Regions from separate parts of the Homo sapiens genome. Here region 1 is linked to region 2. The links come from fine-mapping of genetic effects on plasma protein levels. A gene starts in region 2. The other region holds a variant in brackets. All regions are shown on one strand. Distances are between the middles of the regions.

The links. PIP is the posterior inclusion probability: the model's chance that the variant is causal. The UK Biobank Pharma Proteomics Project read protein levels with antibody pairs (Olink). The fine-mapping took linkage between variants from a reference panel, not from the people measured, so its PIPs are less certain.
Region 1: its variant is fine-mapped to the plasma level of the MELTF protein (UK Biobank, PIP above 0.99).

What each region holds. Positions count from the first base shown.
Region 1 is chr3:197,014,380-197,024,877 of GRCh38, forward strand. MELTF (melanotransferrin) reads right to left here. Exons shown (of 16, transcript NM_005929.6): 4 at 9,924-10,106; 5 at 8,578-8,734; 6 at 7,025-7,092; 7 at 2,724-2,911; 8 at 1,810-1,990; 9 at 986-1,137. Among named protein-coding and RNA genes, the nearest start is that of MELTF, 10 kb to the right of the region's middle. RefSeq lists an enhancer at 8,355-8,404. The variant C/T (reference allele first, on the strand shown) is at 4,832.
Region 2 is chr3:197,025,367-197,035,864 of GRCh38, forward strand. MELTF (melanotransferrin) reads right to left here and starts at 4,451. Exons shown (of 16, transcript NM_005929.6): 1 at 4,288-4,451; 2 at 2,390-2,544; 3 at 1,294-1,393. The coding sequence starts at 4,336. RefSeq lists silencers at 3,714-3,893, 4,084-4,133, 4,184-4,673 and enhancers at 4,207-4,843, 4,844-5,480, 5,868-7,067, 6,172-6,466.

The DNA of each region.
Region 1 (10,498 bases), 11 kb before region 2:
AGAGTTTTTTTTTTTTTTTTTTTTTTTGAGACAGTCTCTCTCTTGTCGCCCAGGCTGGAGTGCAATGGTGTGATCTCGGCTCCCTGCAACCTCCACCTCCCGGGTCCAAGCGATTCTCCTGCCTCAGCCTCCCAAGTAGTTGGGATTACAACTGTGTGCCACCATGCTCGGCTAATTTTTTTGTACTTTTAGTAGAAACAGAGTTTCACCATGTTGGCCAGGCTGGTCTTGAACTCCTAACCTCAAGTGATCCACCCACCTTGGCCTCCCAAAGTGCTGGGATTATAGGTGTGAGCCAATGCACCCAGCCAGGAGAGATAGGAGGAATAAGCTCCAGTGTTCTATAGACTGTAGGATGACTAGAGTTAACAATAATACATAGTTTCAAACAGGTAGGACGATATTGCATGTTCTCCACACGGAGAAATGAGCAATGTTTGAGATGATGGTATGTTAATTATTATCCTGCTCTGATCACCATGTATTCTATGTATCAAAACATCAGTATGTATCTCATGAATATGCACAATTATTATTTGTCTATTTAGAAAAATCAGGAAAAAAGAAAAAAAAAGTCGAACAATGATCCACGCCCACTCTCTATTGCACAAGGGAAGGCTGAGATTCAGAAAGGGGAAGGGGCTTGCCCCAGGCTACAGGGCGTCAGTGCCCAGCTGGGCCAGCGCTTCTTCTGCTCCTGGCACCCCCACTTAGTGAGGAGCTCCCAGGCTCTCCAGGGGACTCACCCCTATCTGCCTGTCCCCTGGGGTGGGTGCTGGCCCCTGCGGTCGCTCCTCCCCGCCTGTCTCTGTCCCCTGGGGTGGGTGCTGGCCCCTGCGGTCGCTCCTCCCCACCCGTCTCTGTGGGCTTGTTGCAGTAGACACTCTCCTCTTCCCCAGGCAGCAGGGGGTGTGGGTAGTAAGAACTGCCCAGGCACTGCCACCACCCGCCCACCTGGCCCACGCTGCACCTGCGTGACTCCCACCTGGATCCGCTCCATGCAGTGTTGGGGGGACTTGGCTGACACGCACTGGATCTCTGGCTTGAGCCGCTGCCGGCGGAAGGCCACGGCCATGTCTCCACACTTCTGGATCTCGGGAGTGGAGAGCACACACCAGCGCAGGTAGGGGGGCAGCCCTGGGGTGGGGCAAGCAAGCGGTCACTGCCAGGCCAGTACTGCCATGGAAGAGCATGGAGTCGGACCCAAGGGAAATTCTGGGCCTTTCTCCTGTCAGGTGTGTGGCTGGGATAAGTTATTTAACCATCGGATCCCACTTCCTCACACAGAAAAGGGGCAACTGTGAGGCCTGAGGAAGACCATGGCTGGCGTGCATGTAACTCAGTGTGTGGTACCCACTTCCCTGGCTGGAGGTGGAAGATACATGGGGCCAGGGGGCTAAAGGCAAGAAGCTCACTTGTAGACTACTGCAATAGTCCAGGCGAAAGATGGCACCTGCGCCAGGGCTGTAGCCATGGGGTAGAGGCGGGGAGTAGGAGCGAGAGGCTGTAGAAGAGCTGACAGGATGCCATGGCCGTGGATGGGGGGGCGAGGAGACCCTTCCCAAGACAGATTCTGATGGTCTGCATCCTCCCCCGCTGCGGCCAGGTGGGGCTTCCGAGGTACAACAGGCCATACAGTGGAAGAGATGCCTCCTCCCCAAAGCCCCAGGGGCAGAGGAATGGAAATGACAGGTTCCCGCAGAGGCCTCCCTGGTGAGCGTCTTCCCCCGGCCACTTTCCCAGAGAGCCTCGCCATGCCCGAGGTTGAGCTGGGCTGGAGCTGGCAGCAGTGGGGACAGGTGGACTTACGGTTGGGGTCACAGAGCAGACCCTTCATGGCGTGCAGGTACTCATGGCCCAGCCACGCCTCATAGGTCTGTGTGGCGATGGGCACAAGCTCCGAGGTAGAGTCTTTGAAGAGTAGATCCTTCTGGCCATAGGCCTCAGAGCTGAACATCTGGAAGCTGCTGCCCTCGTGGCTGAACAGACGCTGTGTGTCAAGGGGTGTGGTACAGGGTGGTGAGGGTGCTGACAGGCCATATCCTTCCCTCCCACTTTGGCCCCTACCTCCTTCTTCCCCGACCTCAGACCAGGCACCCACCCTGAGGGCCAGGTGAGGCCTCCCTCTTCTGCGGCGCCTCCCCTGATCTGCGGCCTCCTTCCCCTGGGCCCTGTCAGTTCTGGGTCTACTCTGAGTTCATTTGGCCTCCTCACACTCAGCTGTTTGGACACATGGCTGTGGCCAGGCATGGGACGGTCCTGAGGACACGCCGTGGGGCTGGTGGTAGCAGCCTGGATAGGGCAAAACTAACTGAGCCTGGGGCACCAGCAGTCAGAAGTCTATTGCTGTCACAAGCGGCGGTTTTAGCCAAACCTTATTCGCCACATGTAATTAATGGTGTGCTTTGAAAGGCGCTGGTTTTGTTACTTGGTTTATTTGCTCATATGTTTTGGTTTTAGCTCTCAGAGACACAAGTCTCAGGAGCTTCTTCTGAGGGTGCCTGAATCCCTGGGTCCCCCTCCTCTGGGCCCCCCTCTCCTGGCCAGCCCTCCTTCTGGCCAGCCAGCATAGTCGGTTCCTCACTCTGACCTGGCCCGATGCTGGGGTCCGTCCCAAGGACAGTCTCTGGGTCCTGCCCCTCCTGGTCCCACCCTGCTGAGCGACCACAAGGCCCGGCACCATCTAGGAAGCTGTGCAGGTGGTTGGGGGACCCTGAGCCCACCTGGCCTTCGTTGAGCAGCCGGAAGATGAGGCCCCCATCTGTGTCGGCCCGGACCACCACGGCGTGAGCAGGCACCCGGGCCAGATGGCACTGCCTCCACTCGGTGACATCGGCCCGGCTACCATCCCGGCACAGCAGCTCGAAGTCCTGTGACAGCAGGGCCTGGCCCCAGGAGGGAAGCGTCTTCCCTGGGAAGCAGGAAGCCTGGGCTGAGCCAGCTCCGAAAGGGGTTGGGGCGGGTGGCGGGGAAGGCCCAGGAGAGGGAATCTGAGGGGTGGCTGGGTGTCATGGACATGAGAACCCAGCATTCAGAAGGTGGCAGAGCTTGGTGGCCGCACCCAACTCCAGGTACCTACACAGACTCTATCTCGTTACTCTCATTTTCTAGCTCTCACCAATTTCTATTGCTAAAGTGAATTGGAGGTATCTGACAGTAATACAATACTTATAAATAACTATTCAAGATAAAAAAAGTAAGAAAATAAGAAAGGCTGGCCGGGCGTGGTGGCTCACGCCTGTAATCCCAGCACTTTGGGAGGCCGAGGTGGGCGGATCACGAGGTCAGGAGATCAAGACCATCCTGGCTAACACGGTGAAACCCCATCTCTACTAAAAATACAAAAAATTAGCTGGGCGTGGTGGCGGGCGCCTGTAATCCCAGCTACTGGGGAGGCTGAGGCAGGAGAATGGTGTGAACCTGGGAGGCGGAGCTTGCAGTGAGCCGAGATCACGCCACTGCACTCCAGCCTGGGCGACAGAGCGAAACTCTGTCTCAAAAAAAAAGAAAGGCTTTGGGTGAGACAGATGAATGTACCAAGAGTCTAGGATGAGCTTGCGGCTGCCATGAGGCACTGCGTTTGGCTCTGAGCAGGGGGCAGGGGGCAGGGCTCCCGGAGCAGGGGCCACGGTGGAAACAAACCCCGAAGGAATCTACCCACCCCAGGACTAGAGAGGACGGGGGATCTCCCATAACTCCAACTATTCATATTGCGATGGATTTCTTTCAAGTCCTTTTTTCTATTTTATTTCCTGTCTTTTGACCTCACCCCCCCTTTTTCTTTTTGAGACGGAGTCTGGCCCTTTCGCCCAGGCTGGAGTGCAGTGGCACGATCTCGGCTCACTGCAACCTCCACCTTCCGGGTTCACGCCATTCTCCTGCCTCAGCCTCCCGAGTAGCTGGGACCACAGGTGCCCGCCACCACGCCCGGCTAATTTTTTGTATTTTTTTTTATTAGAGATGGGGTTTTACTGTGTTAGCCAGGATGGTCTTGATCTCCTGACCTCGTGATCCACCCACCTCGGCCTCCCAAAGTGCTGGGATTACAGGCGTGAGCCTCCACACCTGGCCTTTTTTCTCTTTTTGAGATGGAGTCTTACTCTGTCGCTCAGGCTGGAGTGCAGTGGCATGATCTTGGCTCACTGCAACCTCCGCCTCCCAGGTTCAAGTTATTCTTCTGCCTCAGCCTCCCGAGTAGCTCAGATTACAGGTGTGCACCAAGATGCCTGGCTAATTTTTGTATTTTTCCTAGAGATGGGGTTTCACCATGTTGGCCAGGCCGGTCTTGAACCCCTGACCTCATGATCTGCCAGCCTCGGCCTCCCAAAGTGCTGGGATTACAGGCGTGAGGCACCGTGCCCAGCCTCCTTTTGACCGCTTTTAACCTGGTTAAGGACATAGTTGACAGGCAATTTTGCATCCTATTTGGTAGAGTATTTTTCCACAGTATTGGAAACTTTCCATAAGTTCATTTGTTTCTCGATAGAAAAGAAAATTTGCAAGAGTAACTATTAACACCAAACAGGGATATTGAGAAGACGAATATTAAGGACTATAATTAAACCACAGATGGTCCCACATAACAATATTTTTATGACCTTAAGACAAGGAGGAAAAAAACCTCTACAAGGAAATAGGAAGAAAAAAGATAATTTGTATGGTCATGAAAGCTTTCACTGCAAAGCTATTTTAAAACAAAACCAAACACCCGCACCAGAGTGATCGTTTAGGAAAACTCCCTAAAGGTCATTGTTAATGGCCACATGGTAGTTTACAGCACTGTTAATGATTCAGTGTAGTCCTACCCCCGCTTCCCAACTTTCCTGTTTTT[C/T]GGCGGCTGCAAAACCTTTGGTTAGAGCTCTGGGGCATCATTTGCCTTCCCACAGACAAAGGCATCATTTAGGTGCTTCCATCAGCCACTCCCGCTTCTCCTCAGCCAAGAACAATGAAAGTCCTGTCACTTCCCTGCTTTAGACATTTATGCCACTTCTACCCCTTGGCTCTTACCAATCTTTCTGTATAAAGTCACTTAAAAAATGACTCCCTTAGATTGCCTCAGATTACCATCAACACTTTGAAAAAGCTGCCAGGTGCACGCCTGTCATCCCAGCTACTCAGGAGGCTGAGATGCGAGGATCAGTTGAGGCTGGGGGTTTGAGACCAGCCTGGGCAACATGGTGAGACCCCCATCTCAAAAAAAACCCCAAGTTTGAAAGAGCTGATTCTTAACCCAACATATCCCTACTCTTTGCCCGTTTTCCAAATTCTCCTTTGTCAGACTCGTCCTGGGGCCTGTGAACGGGAGCCCATTTCCAGGCTTGCCCAGCACTAGAGCGCATCGTCCTACGTGCTTCCTCGTGTGCAGGGCACTCGCCTTCTTCCTCCTCAGATCTGGTCCATGTTTGCCTTCGTGATGGACTTTCTGATTTAAAAGGCAATGGTTAATAACAGCAAAGAATGACAATGATTTAAAAAAAAAACCCAATCATCAGACGTCCTGGGAGACGCAAAACTGCAGACAGAACGGTGTGTTTGCTGCTTGCTGGCAGGTGCGGGGAGATAACTAGCAGGGGCCTGAGGAACTCCTGGGCTGAAGGGTCTGCCCCATCAAGATCTCGATTGTGGTGGTGGTTATACAACTGCATGTATTTGGCAAAACTCATAGAACTATCCTTCAAAAAGAACAAATTTTGCTGCATGTAAATTATATCTCAATTTAAAAAAAGAAACAATCTTCAGGCAAATCTAAATTGAGGGACATTCTATAAAATAACCGGCCTGATGCTTCAAAATGCCAATGTCATAAAAACAAAGACTGAGAAACTGTTCCAAGATAAAGGAAAGTAAAGAGATCTAACAACTAAACCCCATGCGTGGTAAGAGTTTAGGTCCTGGTCTGCAAGAAATGGGCATGAAGGACAGAATTGGGACGGTGAGTGAATCTGCAATATCGGCTATAGACTGGATAACAGGATTGTATCAAAGTTGCGTGTCCTGATTTGGATTACTGTGGCTAGGTACACACCTCCTTGTCTTAGGAGATACATACCAAAGTATTCAAGGGGTATGACATAGGCAAATGTACTCTCAAATGGGTCAGAACACACACGCACACACACACACACACACAATAAAATGTGGGAAAATGCTAAACAGTTAGAATTTGGGTGAAGAATAGAAGGGAGCTCTTTGAGTTATTCTTGTAAGTTTTCCAAAGCTCAGTTCTTTCAAAATTAAAAAACTTAAATGACATGATGGCTCAATATATAACACCAGTCTTTGTGGGTTTTTTTTTTGTTGTTGTTTTTTAGACAGAGTCTCGCTCTGTCACCAGGCTGGAGTGCAGTGGTGTGATCTCGGCTCACTGCAATCTCTGCCTCCTGGGTTCAAGCAATTCCCCTGCCTCAGCCTCCCAAGTAGCTGGGATTTGAGGCACCCACCACCACGCTCGGCTAGTTTTTTGTATTTTAGCAGAGATAGGATTTCACCATGTTGGCCAGGATGGTCTCTTCTCCTGACCTCGTGATCCGCCCACCTCGGCCTCCCAAAGTGCTGGGATTACAGGCATGAGCCACCGTGCCCAGCCTCAACACCAAACTATATCTTAAACCTTCCCAGGGATGAGGGACAAATTCTCCAGGCAAGAGGAGAAAAATGCCAGGAAGGGCTGGTAGGTGAGATCCAGTGCAGGGGTTTGCAAATTGCTTAAAAAATCAGACCCTCATCTTCAGGTGGAACCAGAACCCAATGCCATATTCAAATCAAAGCAGAGCAGAGCTGCTCGCTGGCCCCCTTCTCCTGCCCTGTGGGCAGTGGGCACTCCACTGGTGACACCTGCCTCTGCTCTTTTGCAGCTGGGAGTGCTGAGGCTCGGAGACTGTGGGACTTGTCCAAGGTCACCCAGAGACTCAGAGCAGCACTGCACTAGGGCGTTTGATCCCAACTCTGCCATCTAGGGTCCCTGCCCCAAGCCGGCCTGGCCTGACTCCCTGCTCCTCTGGGCCCGTGCCCCTCCCCCACTCACCATCCGTGTTCTCCAGTACCGTGCTGTGCTTCACAAAAGCCACGTCCCCTGCCCCTTCCGCCAGGCACCTGCGGAGGAGAAGCTGTGGGTCTGGATGGGCTGAGCCCCTGCCCCTGCCCATCTTCCACCTCTGGAGGCCTGGCTTGGGCTGTAGGGGTGGCCATGATGGGCATGGGCTTTCCAGTTGTGTGGTCTGGGTTCCAGCTCCCTGGCTGGTCGGCTGTGTGCCTTTGCCGAGTTGTGGCCCCTTCCTAGCCCCTATCATCTGTAAAGCGGGGGTGGGAAAGTAGCTCCCACAGGGCTGCTCTGAGGATGAGAGGCTCCTTATAATCCAGTATGGACCCTCTCCATCTTAGCTCAGGCCTGTAGGGAGCAGGCACTCCCAGGGCAGCTGCTATTATAATATCAGCAGCCTTGACTCTCAGGGCGTCGGTTTTCTGTGTGTTTGTTTTCGTTGTTTTGTTTTTAGAGATAGGGTCTCACTGTGTCGCCCAGGCTGGAGTGCAGTGGCGCAATCATAGCTCATGGCAGCTTTGACCTCTTGGGCTCAAGTGATCATCCTGCCTCTGCCTCCAAAGTAGCTGGGGTGACAGGTGTGTGCCACCATGCTGGGCTAATTTTCAGGGTGTTTTGAAGAGCATTCTACCCTGAGGCAGGGGATTGGACTAGAAGGCCTTTTCATGCCATGCCGCAGAATCCTCAGTGGAAGGGACCATTGACTTTTACACGATCTGCTGATGTCACTGCCCAGTGTTGGAGGCAGGTCAGACCTCCTGGGCAAAGGGTCTGCTTGGGTCCCCACGGGCAGAAAATGCACAGGGATTAGAGCAGATCGGGGCGGGCGACATCAGGAGAGGGCTCTGAGGCTCCAAGAGAGCCAGAGAGAATGTGTGCATGGCCAAGGACACGGGGAGTGGAGGGGCAAGGCTGTCCCGCTCAGGGGTGCTGAGGACTGTTTCTTCTCTCTAAGCCGAAAACCGCATCCAGTCAGATAACATCTGGAGTGTGGGGCACCAGCAGGCTTCCCTGCTCCAGGTGGAAACGTGAGGTAGCTAGAGGGGCCCGAGAAGCTTCCTTTCCAATCCTGCTGAGCACATTTCCTCCTCTGCAGGCAGATGGAATTGGACCACGAGCTGTTAGAGTCTCCTGCATCCACGGAAGGGTTACCCAAGGTGCCAGCCGCAACCAGCAGCAGAGACGGGCCGGCCCCAGGTGTCCAGACACACTCCCCTGACCCCGCTCCCTGCTGGTCTGAGAATGGGGACATGGGAGTGGCCAAAAGGCTGTTTTTTCCATTTTCTTCTCTTGGAGCCCTCACCTCACTAAATATACCAAACACGTTGATTTCATGAGCAAATCCGGTTTGGCATATTCCAGCTGGATGTTTTTAAACTAACCAGGGCACAGAACTATATAAAGGGTGCTTTGATGAGACGCAGCCAACATGCCACTTCCCCCTCCACGGCCCTCTCTGGGCAAAGGTGTTTTTCCCCAGCATTTGTGGCCTCAGCTCCTCCCTGCCCTCGGCCCCTCCCTGCCCCCACTCCGCTCACCGGAAGGCCCCGCTGTAGTCGTAGTATCTCTCCAGGGGGCTCTTGTCACACACCCCTTCCCCAGAGCTGTCACCCCTGCAGAGGCGACAGAGGGACTCAGAGTAACTGGTCTCTCCTGCCCCCGGGACGCAGCTGCCCCCAAAATAGTCGCTGACAGCTGTGGGAAGGAGGTAGAGAGGTCACTCAGCAGAACTTTCTTCAGAGCCAAGCCAAGCCCCCAGGGTCAGCAGGGGGCCCGGGCTCTCATCTGGACTCTGCTGAGAATGGTTCCACCTTCCAGCTTCAGTCTGAGCAAAGCTGGGGAGTGGACCCGATCAGTGACCCCCAAACCGGGTCCACCAAGGCAGCAGACAGCACTGGGAGCGACTGTCATTTAAAAATGGTTCGGGGGAACTAAACATTTCCTCCTAAATGACCACGTGGGATAACTCAGTATCAGCCAGATGCTCTTCTCACTGTGGGTTTCATTTCCAGCTCAGCCAACTGTGACTGATGACAGAGGGGAAATAAAGAATTATTGAAGATCACTGATGGGTAGACAACCCTTCTCACGGCACAGGGAGGGAGGCACACGCCCGGCGGCCAGCCTCACGGGGGACGAGGTCAGGGTCTGCCGCCCTGCATGGTTCTTCCGGCCCTGCCAGCACCAAAACCCACAAGTATTTATCCTGTGCCGCGCGAGGAGGCCCTGCTGCTGGCACCTGAGCCAGTCGGGCCACGCTCATCGCCAGCCAGACTGAGCTTTTCCAGAGTAAGCCCTCTTCCTGGTTTTTTTTTTGTGACCTCCCAGAGGAGTAGATATTTAATAAATATGCCAAGTGCCTGGTGAGCCACTCACACCTGGCCACCAGCTGAGAGGGTGAGGCTTCCAGGCTCTCGCGGGTTTACACGGCTGGTTGGGCTGATGAGCCACTTGGGAGCTTTCTGGGTGCAAGTCGGCACCTCGTTTGGGTCCTGAAAAAATAGCATTTCTGGTCCTGTAAAGCCGAGGACACATTTCTAGACACAGTGACCTGCGCCCGGTCTATACTGGTGGGAAGCACTCCTGGGAGATTCACTGCTTCCCACTCATGGGCTGGGCCTGTGCCTGGCTGTGCCATGTGGGACACCACGATGCGTGAGCAAGAATCGCGCCCCACAGGGTCCAAGCAAGCAGGAAGTCAAGCGGCGGCGCCGGCGGCAGAGTGGAGGCGGGGGAGGCACGGGGCGGGCGGGGGCTGCTGCGCCTTCCAGGAATGAAGAATGGTGGCGAGGCCGGAGGGAGGCTACCCAGTGAAGGGACGAGCATGGGCCAAGGAAAGGAGGGGGAGGCCTGGGGACCCTCCTGCCCAGCCCAAAGCCCTCACCTTTGAGTACATCGCAGCCCATCACCGAGAGGCGGCCGCTCTCCACCAGGTAGCCCACGGGCACGTTCCAGCCCACTGTGCGATTGATGCCCGTGTGGCAGGACTTCACGCCTTTCAGGGTGTCAATGGTCACATGGGAGCTCCTCCTGACCACAGCCACGGCGTAATAGGAGGTACCGACCTCTAGGAGGGGAGGGGAGTGGGTGAGGGCAGCAGGGAGAGGCCTCGAGAGAGGCTGCACCAGCACCCTGCCTGGGCGGGCTGTGGGAGAGGTGTGTGCACGGAGCACGGCTGTACACACGGATGTGTGCATAGCGTTCTCGTTACCAAGAGAGCAAGTGGGCTTCATCTGCATGTATTAAGAGGCCCTGCCCTCTAGCCTCTTGAGGTAGAGACGATCCTGAGATATTGATGTATTCATTGATTTCCCCCTCTTCCTTCCCCAGCAGCTGGTGCTTAGCTGGGTCCACATTTGCTCACATCAGGGGAGTTATTTAGCTGGACAGAAAGCAGAAGCCAGCAAGTCCTTGCTTTCCAAGAGCCTAGGCCCCTAGGAGAACTTGGAGGGTTTGGGG
Region 2 (10,498 bases):
CCTTGTTTCTTACCAATCCTCTGGACCGCCTGAGATGGTTGCGGGGCTCAGCTTACCCATCACCTCTGCAGAGCACCGTCCTGCCTGCTCTATTTCAGTGGATTTCCCCGCAACCCTCGTTTTCTCTGTCCTGCCCTTCCCTTTTCCTCACAGCACCCCAACATGTGTCACTGTATTGTTTTGGGTGTGTTTATTTACTCTCTGCTCTGTGGGGGCAGGAAGGTCTCTTCGTTTACTGCTGCATGCTTATGACCAGCGGGTAGCAGGTGCTCAGTAGAGGTGTCGAGTTAATTAAAGAGGAAGAGGTGCGTGGGGCCTCGGAGGCAGAGCTGTTTCTGGCTGATGGGTGTGCAGGGTTGGACTGTGCCGTGTGTCATTTGATGGCCATTAATTCAACAAGGAACCAGCCAGTGCTTTCTCCAAGCGAGATGCTGTGTGGAGTTCCAGAGGGTAGACACAGGGGAAGACTGGACCCTCCTCTGAGGACTAACGAGACTGAGCAGGCAGAGGCTTGCAGAGGCCATGTGGGTGCGGGCAAGAGAGGCCCTGCTCCAGAGAGGGAGGGGCTCAGGGAGCACCTTGGAGGAGGTGACAGTTGCGCTGGACTGTGATGGAGGCCAGGCACCGGCCAAGCAGAGGTGGCGGGGGAGACACAGGAGCTGGCTGAGCTGGAGGCAGGTCCCATGTGTGATGCGGGGACTGGGCAAAGGAACTCACACTTTCCAGCACATACCACATGTCAGGTGGGCACACGGCCTGGCTCATTTAGTCTGGGTGACAGCGCAGGTGTTACTATCCCCATTATACAGTCTGGGAAGTGGAGGTTGGCCAAGGTCACAGAAGTCATGGGAAGGGGAAGGGCTGGGTCTGCTGAGCTGTGCCGCTGCCAGACAGCACCTCCCTACCCGGAGCCGGGCTTCTGAAGGGAGGCCCTGAGAGTGCAGGTGGCTCGGCATTAAGGACGCCTTGCTCACCCAAGGCAGTTACGCACACAGCACCGTGCCCGGCACCACGCCAGGCCCGGGACAGCCCGCAGTAAGAGCTGAGTGGGCACAGGCTAGGGGGCTGCTGGGCTCCCTGCGGGCAAGAGCAGACTTGGGGCAGCTCTCTGTGTCCCTGGAGCTCCTGTCCCTGGGGAATTTGAGAGAGCCTTAGGGCGTTCTTCTGGCTGGGACTCCAGGACTGCTCTGTGGACAGGGCTGATGGCCAGCTCAGGCCAGGCCCAGCAAGGGCAGCCTGGAGAGCTGACTTCCAGCGCAGGCTGTCCTCTCTCCTCCCACTGCACCCTCTTACCTTGATCGTACACTTCGCCCACCACCGGCTTCAGGCCGTGCTCCTTTCCCGCCTCATAGATGGCTCCTCCATCCAGAGTGATGGCGTCAGCCTCCTGGGCCTGCAAGGAAATGTGGCTCAGCCAAGCCTGGCCCAGCTGGCCTGCTCAGCAAAGAACTCGGGACACCTACCAGATGGCCTGGGGCCCCACCCCAAGCCCCAGAGGGCTGTGCTGTCCTTCTCATCTGTCCCAGGAGCCCAACCAGAGCCCAGGGCTCTCCCCCTTTCCCAGGCCAGGGATTCACCTTGTTTTCCTAATAATGTTAAAAAAAAAATACTAATCATTGATTTTGCAGGACTCAGATATCATAGTAAAAAAATCAGATAGCAGAAAACGGTGCGCAGTGACAAGTGAGTCTCCCTCGCTTTCTGTCCCTCCACCCTGCGCCTCTACTGCTACCCTAGGTTTTCTAGCTTTTTTTCTCTAAGGTGGTCTGTGCTTGGGGTTTCTGCCCTCACATGGAGCCTGACCCACAGCCTTGGCCCCAGTGTGGGCCTGTGATTGGATTAGGTCTTGGGGGCATATGGGGGGCAGAGCTGGAATGAAAAGCCAGCTTTCTTTGCACCCACCCAGGAGGGACGCCACTCTCTGGTGGTGCCTCGGAGGATTGTCAGTGTCATTTAGCAGTTCTCAGCAGACCTGCTCTCCTACCCCATGCTCACCCACCTGGGAGTCCAGCCCCTGCTCCTCCTTCCCCAGAAACCACACAAGCCCCATTCTGGAGAGCCCCATGGCAAGATGAGCAAGTAACCGCCTGCGGCCACTGAGGGGCCGCCACCATCTGGGCCCCCTTGGCAGGGGCCTTGTGGAAGGGAAGCCTCTCAGGTGCCTTTCTTTGCTGGCGCCCTCTGAGCAGCGGGTCCTCCTGAGGCTCCCACCTCCTGGCCTGGGCCCGGCGGGAGGCAAGCTGGCCTCGTGGCCAGGGAGACTCGGGAGATCCTATCGGCCGGGCCTGGCAGGGCGAGGTCGGCTCCTTTCCTGGTGAATGGGGCTGTTGTGTGCTCCCTCCTGAGTCACAGCCCTCTTGTCTGGCAGGGTGGAAGGGAGAGGACTCACCGCGATGAGCTGGACGCAGTGGTCGGCGGAGGTGCCCCGGACGCAGAGGAGGGAGGGCTGGATGCCCGCTTCCCGGAAGGCCTCGCTCATGTTGCCGCACTTGTGCTGCTCTGGGTCCGAGGTGGCGCACCACCGCACCTCCATGCCACCGAGCACTGCGGGCAGGGGACCGTGAGGCCCGGCTCCCCCGCCCTGCCCAGCCCCGGCCCACCATGGAGGGTGGCTCCAGCAGTTCTGTGTGAGCCCATTCGCCTGGACAGCCAGTCCTCTAGGGCAGCCCTGCCCTCCCACAGGGAGGCACTAGGCGCAGAGACAGGGGAAGGGCTGGTATTCCTGTGCTCAGGGCCTCTCTGACCAGGAGCACGGCTGCTGGCAAATGGAATGGCTCAGAACCCGGCCCTTTATGGAGGAATGGGAGGGTCTACAGGTCGCTTCTCAGCTACCCCCACCTGGTGGGAGCACTGGCTAGGGAGTCTCGGCAGGCCCTGGAAGTGGAAGCTTCTTCCCCTCTCCAGGCCTCCCGAAGAGGGTGCTCGTGTAGGTTCCCTCACCCAGCAGTGTCCCTGGGCCTTCCTCATGAACTGGGACGGGAGAGTGAGGTGAGGGGGCTGTGGGTGGGCTGCCCTCCAGGAGCCCTGTCCCCTCGGGGAGTGTCTGCGATGATGCTGGCTGCAAAGCCACCCTCGGTGGGCACAGTGCCAGGCCCTGCCAAGGGAAGACGGCAGGCACAGAGGGGAGGCTGAGGACCCATCAGGGTAGGTTCAAGCCTCTCTGAGCCTGCTTCATCTTCTGAGAGAGCAGATAAAAACCCCACCTTCTGTGTTGAAAGTAAACCCCCTTGTAGAGAGCCTGAGACACCCACATCCTCAGTGGACTTCTGCTTATGCCTCAGGATCTGACCGGGTCAGAGTCCCCGAGAGCTCCCAGGCTAGGGGCCCAGAGGAAGGGGTGCTGGAGCCCCTTGGGGCCGATGACTTTCAGGCCTGAGCTCCTCTGCCATTCACCCTGCCCCAGCCAGCACTGCCAGAGGCCTGTGCAGGAGGGAGGGAAACGCATGACTCCGCCCGAAACCAGGTCACCCTCCCGTGGCAGCCCCACCAGCCCAAGGGCCGAGACTGAAGCTTCCGCCACAGCCCTCCCCTCCCCACTCCTGGCGGAGGCCTGGGAAGTCGAACTGCCCTCCCCTCCGCAGCGCTCCAAGCCCCCCACCACCCAGGCGGGAAACTGCAAAGTTCAGACGGGGCGGGGGTGGCGGTGGCTTCATCGTTTGCATTGATGAGTGCGTCGCCTGCGGCCACAGCGGTGCCACGAACTCCATCCCCTCGGCGGTCGCCGCCCGCGATCCCCGCGAGCCGCTCCCCGAGGTCCCGCCTCCCGTCCCACCATCCCGGGCCCTGACTCCCCGGGGCGCCGACGCGAGGGGACCCGGCCTCCGTCTCCACCTCCATCCCTGCATGTGCCAGAAACCCCCGGGCGGACTCCCGCGCCTGCCGGTCAGTCCCTCTGAATCTTCTCCCGCGGGGGCTCGGGAGAAAGAGCTGCTCCGAGCCCCCAAAGTCTTCCTGAGTTCCTGCGCCCGTCGGGAGGGGCCGCCCTCCGGGAGCTCCTCTCCACACCCCGAGGCCTCCCCACCACGCCTCAGCCCGCGCTTCTCCTTGGAGCGTCGGAAGCCTCGGGTGTTCGAGGCCGCCTCCTCCAAGAAGCCTTCCAGACTTCCCCGTCTGCGCTTCAGTGCTAGTTCCCTCCGCCGTCCTCACTCGACCCCGAGCCCCTGCCTCCCCCGTCTCACTGCCCCGGAGCCGCAGGCTCAGGCACATTTCCAGCCCCGGGACCTGCTCAGCCGGGCCGCGGCGCCCCGGGACCCCCGCCCGCCTTTGGCTCTCACAGCGGGGCCTCACCGGTGCGCAGAGCCAGGAGCAGCCACAGAGCCCCGCTCGGACCCCGCATGGCGCCGTCGGGGCTGGCTGGGGCCGGGCTGGGGCTGGGTCCGGGTCCGAGGAGGTCCGCAGCAGCCGGGCTTCCTCCCTGCTCCCCCTCGCGCTGGCCCGAGCTCCTTAAGTGCGGCCGCGAGTTCCCGGGCGGAATCCACGCCCCTGGGGCGCAGGTCACCTCCCGCCGACCCCGGACCCCGCCCCTGGGCGGCCCCGGCGCGCCCCCTGCTGGAGGCCTCCCGCTCGGGCCCGGGCGCCGCTGCTCGGGGCTCTCGCCTCAGCCTCCTACCCCGCGTTCCAGGGTATCCTCCCCTCCTCGCGCCCTAGAAAGACTCCAGATACCGTGTCTAACTGGAGAGAGAAAAGCTCAGACGTGGAAGGAAGGAGAGGTCAGAATCCCAGAGTCGGGGCTGGAGGGCAGCTGGAGGATGATCTCATTCACGCAGCAGCTCCCTCCCAGCACAGCTGCACAGAGGATCTGGGATACGGGGGAGCCCAGGCCGAGCGCCCTGGCGAGGGGGGAGCCGGGCAGGGGCATCTCGGCCACAGCTGCACAGAGGATCTGGGATACGGGGGAGCCCAGGCCGAGCGCCCTGGCGAGGGGGGAGCCGGGCAGGGGCATCTCGGCCACAGCTGCACAGAGGATCTGGGATACGGGGGAGCCCAGGCCGAGCGCCCTGGCGAGGGGGGAGCCGGGCAGGGGCATCTCGGCCACAGCTGCACAGAGGATCTGGGATACGGGGGAGCCCAGGCCGAGCGCCCTGGCGAGGGGGGAGCCGGGCAGGGGCATCTCGGCCTAGCCGACTGCCTCTCCTCGGGCCTAGAGACGGGAGGTGACTTGCCCGAGTCAGGCATCCAGTCAGTGGCAGAGCCAGCTGATTGGAAGGTGAGAAGAGGACCAGAGAGGAATTGGAGGAAGCGGAAAAGGAGAAACAGGCGGAGAAGGGGAGGAAGAGAGTGAAGAAGGTGAGGGAGGAAAGGGTGGGTTGACCGTATTTCTAGGACAGTGGTTCTCAGTGTGGTCCCTAGGCCAGCAACGTGAGCATCACCCTGGAACTTGCTGGAAATGCAAGTGCTCAGGCCCCACCTCCGACCCACTGGATCGACAGCTCTGGGGGCGGGGCCCACAATCTGTTTTTATTTCGGGGCACAGCAAATGTTGAGAACCACTGTCGCAGGCGGGCAAAAGCGGCACTCCCCATGTGGTTGGGGATGCGGGGAATGAACTGAAGACATTGTTAGTCACCTGCCTCCATTTAGGCCTCACCTTTATGTCATCAGCCCCTCTGAGACTCAGAAATGATGTCTCTCTCTGACATGGGTAAGTACAACAGTGAGAGAGAAGACATCCCTCTGAGTTTGTCTGTCCTTGAGCTTGCTCTGCGCCCTGGGGAAGGAAGGCCTCCCTCCTATGGGGCCATGAAGCTACTGCTTATCACACACTGGATCAGGGGAAGGAACATGGGCTGGGCTTCAGGAGACTCGAGCTCTACTTTTTAAAAACCAGCGACTTACAGACCCTGGGCGAGTTCGTCGCCCTCTCTGGGCTTGTTCCCCACATGTAAAAGGTAGGTCATGATGGCCGTGACGTGCCATACTTTCCGTCTCCTGTCTGCTCTGGAGGACTTGTGCTGTGGAAGCTGTTTCTCCATCCCCCCAGATGGATCCCTTCTTCCTAGTTTGCACAAAGGTGCCGAATGGACTAGCAGGCAGCCTTGCTAGAGGGGCTGATGGCTTGTCCTAAGAAGATGGAATAAATAGAAGAGTCCTTAACAAGCCTCGTTCTCCTGACCACGAGGATAGAAAGGCTCAGTTGGCACACTCCAGGAGCCACCAGATGACTGGCAGGATCTGTTTGATGACTAAGTCCTTCCTTTGGCAAAACTCCACGTGACGCTGATAGGGAGTGAGAACAACCATAACCTAAGAGGTTTGCTGGGCTCTTTCACAATGAAGTTCTTCCCTTATCTCTTGGGTGTCATTCAGCTGTGACTCATCAGTGAACTTGCTGCCTCTGGGTTCTCAGGGATTCTACATCGGGCCCGTTGGCCCAGGGTTGGCATGAACGCGCATCACCTTTGTGGAATGGGGAAGTCTGCCTCAGCTTGAGCCAGGATTCTGCCATTTCTGGGGTCCGGACATACTTGGGTGTGCCAGAGAAATGGGTGGGATGTAATGAGAGAGTAATAAGCCAGTAGTTTAACCCACAAACAGCCTTCTGGAGGAGCAGAAGCTGAGGTTAGTTTGGTCCCCATTCTAGACTCATATTGAGATTAGAGGGAGAGCATACAGACTAAAGGAACTGGTTTCACTGACACTTCGATCAGATTCTGGGGCCTAAGCAGCTCTGCCTGAGTCTCCCTGACCCTACCCCATAATATGAAATAAAAAGAGCTCTTCTCCACTCTTGCCAAAGACACAGCTCTGGCTCTCCAAGGATTCAGAGTGCCCAGAAGCATTGAGCTTGCTTGTCAGGGAATCGAGGAACAGTACATCCCATGGAGGGAATACACTACAGGCAGCCTCAGAAAGTGGGGGCCTTTGACAGGAGACTGAGAAGGTCCATCAGCAGGTAGTGGCTAATGAGCCAGCAAAGGGTGAAATCCTTTACCCAAAACGAAGTAAAATATTGTACTTAGGAAAAAATATTTTTCAACAAATCATAATTTCTGTCTGTCTATTTCTATGGCCCGCAATGTCTTTAAGAACAAGCCAAATAGTTTTTATTCTGGGGAACCCTTGGAAGGCTGGTGTGCCCTGAGAAAGTTTGGGTGTGAGCACCTGCAGTAGTGTGATGTCAGAGGATGTTACGCTCTTGCTGACTGGTTGGGGTGTCAGCACCTGCAGTCGTGTGATGTCAGAAGATTTTACACTCTTGCTGACTGGTTGTGGTGTGAGCACCTGCAGTAGTGTGATGTCAGAGGATGTTACCCTCTTGCTGACTTGTTGGGGTGTGAGCACCTGAAGTAGTGTGATGTCAGAGGATGTTACACTCTTGCTGATGGGTTGGGGTGTGAGCACCTGCAGTCGTGTGATGTCAGAAGATTTTACACTCTTGCTGACTGGTTGGGGTGTCAGCACCTGCAGTAGTGTGATGTCAGAGGATGTTACACTCTTGCTGACTGGTTGGGACATGAGCACCTGCAGTAGTGTGATGTCAGAGGATGTTACACTCTTGCTGATGGGTTGGGTGTGAGCACCTGAAGTAGTGTGATGTCAGAAGATTTTACACTCTTGCTGACTGGTTGGGGTGTGAGCACCTGCAGTAGTGTGATGTCAGAGGATGTTACCTCTCTTGCTGACTGGTTGGGGTGTGAGCACCTGCAGTCGTGTGATGTCAGAAGATTTTACACTCTTGCTGACTGGTTGGGGTGTGAGCACCTGCAGTAGTGTGATGTCAGAGGATGTTACACTCTTGCTGACTGGTTACTGTGTGAGCACCTGCTGTAGTGTGATGTCAGAGGATGTTACACTCTTGCTGACGGGTTGGGGTGTCAGCATCTGCAGTAGTGTGATGTCAGAGGATGTTACCCTCTTGCTGACTTGTTGGGGTGTGAGCACCTGCAGTAGTGTGATGTCAGAGGATGTTACACTCTTGCTGATGGGTTGGGGTGTGAGCATCTGCAGTAGTGTGATGTCACAGGATGTTACGCTCTTGCTGACTGGTTGGGACGTTAGCACCTGCAGTAGTGTGATGTCACAGGATGTTACACTCTTGCTGACTGGTTGGGGTGTGAGCACCTGCAGTAGTGTGATGTCAGAGGATGTTACACTCTTGCTGACTGGTTTGGGTGTGAGCACCTGCAGTAGTGTGATGTCAGAGGATGTTACACTCTTGCTGACGGGTTGGCGTGTGAGCACCTGCAGTAGTGTGATGTCAGAGGATGTTACTCTCTTGCTGACTGGTTTGGGTGTGAGCACCTGCAGTAGTGTGATGTCAGAGGATGTTACACTCTTGCCAACTGGTTGGGGTGTGAGCATCTGCAGTAGTGTGATGTCAGAGGATGTTACACTCTTGCCAACTGGTTGGGGTGTGAGCATCTGCAGTAGTGTGATGTCAGAGGATGTTACTCTCTTGCTGACTGGTTACTGTGTGAGCACCTGCAGTAGTGTGATGTCAGAGGATGTTACACTCTTGCTGACTGGTTGGGTGTGAGCACCTGCAGTCGTGTGATGTCAGAAGATTTTACACTCTTGCTGACTGGTTGTGGTGTGAGCACCTGCAGTAGTGTGATGTCAGAGCATGTTACACTCTTGCTGACTGGTTGGGTGTGAGCACCTGCAGTCGTGTGATGTCAGAGGATGTTACACTCTTGCTGACTGGTTGGGGTGAGTACCTGCAGTAGTGTGATGTCAGAGGATGTTACACTCTTGCTGACTGGTTGGGACATGAGCACCTGCAGTAGTGTGATGTCAGAGGATGTTACGCTCTTGCTGGCTGGTTGGGGTGTGAGCACCTGCAGTGGTGTGATGTCAGAGGATGTTACTCTCCTGCTGACGGGATGGGATGTGAGCACCTGCAGTAGTGTGATGTCAGAGGATGTTACGCTCTTGCTGACTGGTTGGGGTGTGAGCACCTGCAGTAGTGTGATGTCAGAGGATGTTACTCTCTTGCTGACTGGTTGGGGTGTGAGCACCTGCAGTAGTGTGATGTCAGAGGATGTTACGCTCTTGCTGGCTGGTTGGGGTGTGAGCACCTGCAGTGGTGTGATGTCAGAGGATGTTACTCTCCTGCTGACGGGATGGGATGTGAGCACCTGCAGTAGTGTGATGTCAGAGGATGTTACGCTCTTGCTGACTGGTTGGGGTGTGAGCACCTGCAGTAGTGTGATGTCAGAGGATGTTACTCTCTTGCTGACTGGTTACTGTGTGAGCACCTGCTGTAGTGTGATGTCAGAGGATGTTACACTCTTGCTGACGGGTTGGGGTGTCAGCATCTGCAGTAGTGTGATGTCAGAGGATGTTACCCTCTTGCTGACTTGTTGGGGTGTGAGCACCTGCAGTAGTGTGATGTCAGAGGATGTTACACTCTTGCTGACTGGTTACTGTGTGAGCACCTGCAGTAGTGTGATGTCAGAGGATGTTACACTCTTGCTGACTGGTTACTTTGTGAGCACCTGCAGTAGTGTGATGTCAGAGGATGTTACGCTCTTGCTGACTGGTTACTGTGTGAGCACCTGCAGTAGTGTGATGTCAGAGGATGTTACACTCTTGCTGACGGGTTGTGGTGTGAGCACCTGCAGTAGTGTGATGTCAGAGGATGTTATGCTGTTGCTGACTGGTTACTGTGTGAGCACCTGCAGTAGTGTGATGTCAGAGGATGTTACGCTCTTGCCGACTGGTTGGGACGTTAGCACCTGCAGTAGTGTGATATCAAAGGGTGTTACACTTGCTGACTGCTTAATCTGAATTTGTATATTGAGAACAATGGCAGACATGTTGAGGAAGTTTTAGGAATAAAAGCTTTTTTTTTTTTTTTTTTTTTGCCTCTTTATAGGAAAGAATTTTTTTCTGTGAAGCATATGTAGGAGAAGTCCTGTCCATTTGGGCTGTGCCAAACTCTATGTCCAGGATTTTCAAAGGCAGAGTCTATGTTTGATCATTTCTGTGCTCATCACAGGGCCTTAAACACAGAGGATGATTTCTAAGTGTGAACTGTTATGTTTTAGGATGTTATTAACTATCATTACTGGTGTCTGATGCTGCTGAAGGGAAGAATGAGAAGAGCCACAGGATCTGGGGACTATGGTGGCCCCAAAGAGCTGTGTGAGCAGTTTCAATGGCATGGCCAGGGCTGAGGCTCAGGCAGGAAACTCAACTCCATGAGGGCAGGGATGGTGTCTTGTCTACCACCGATCCCAGTGTCTAGCATCAGGTCCGGAATATAATAGGATTCAATACATAATTATACTATTATAAATGAAGGGAAGAGTGAACAGAGTATCTCAAGATACTTGGCTAAGAAGGGAGAGGGGCTGTTTTCAGGGGGTTCAGCGTTGAGGGTCAGTTTTTACAGGAGAGATTTGATCAGAATGTGAAGAATCAGATCCAGACAAGCAGAGTGAGCAGGAAGAAAGGAAAACAAAGCTTCTTCCCTGGGGATGGGCGGGAGGAGGACGGGAAAGGTTCCAACTGAGTTGGACCTGCCATCAAATGTCAGTCTCTCAATGCTGAGCTC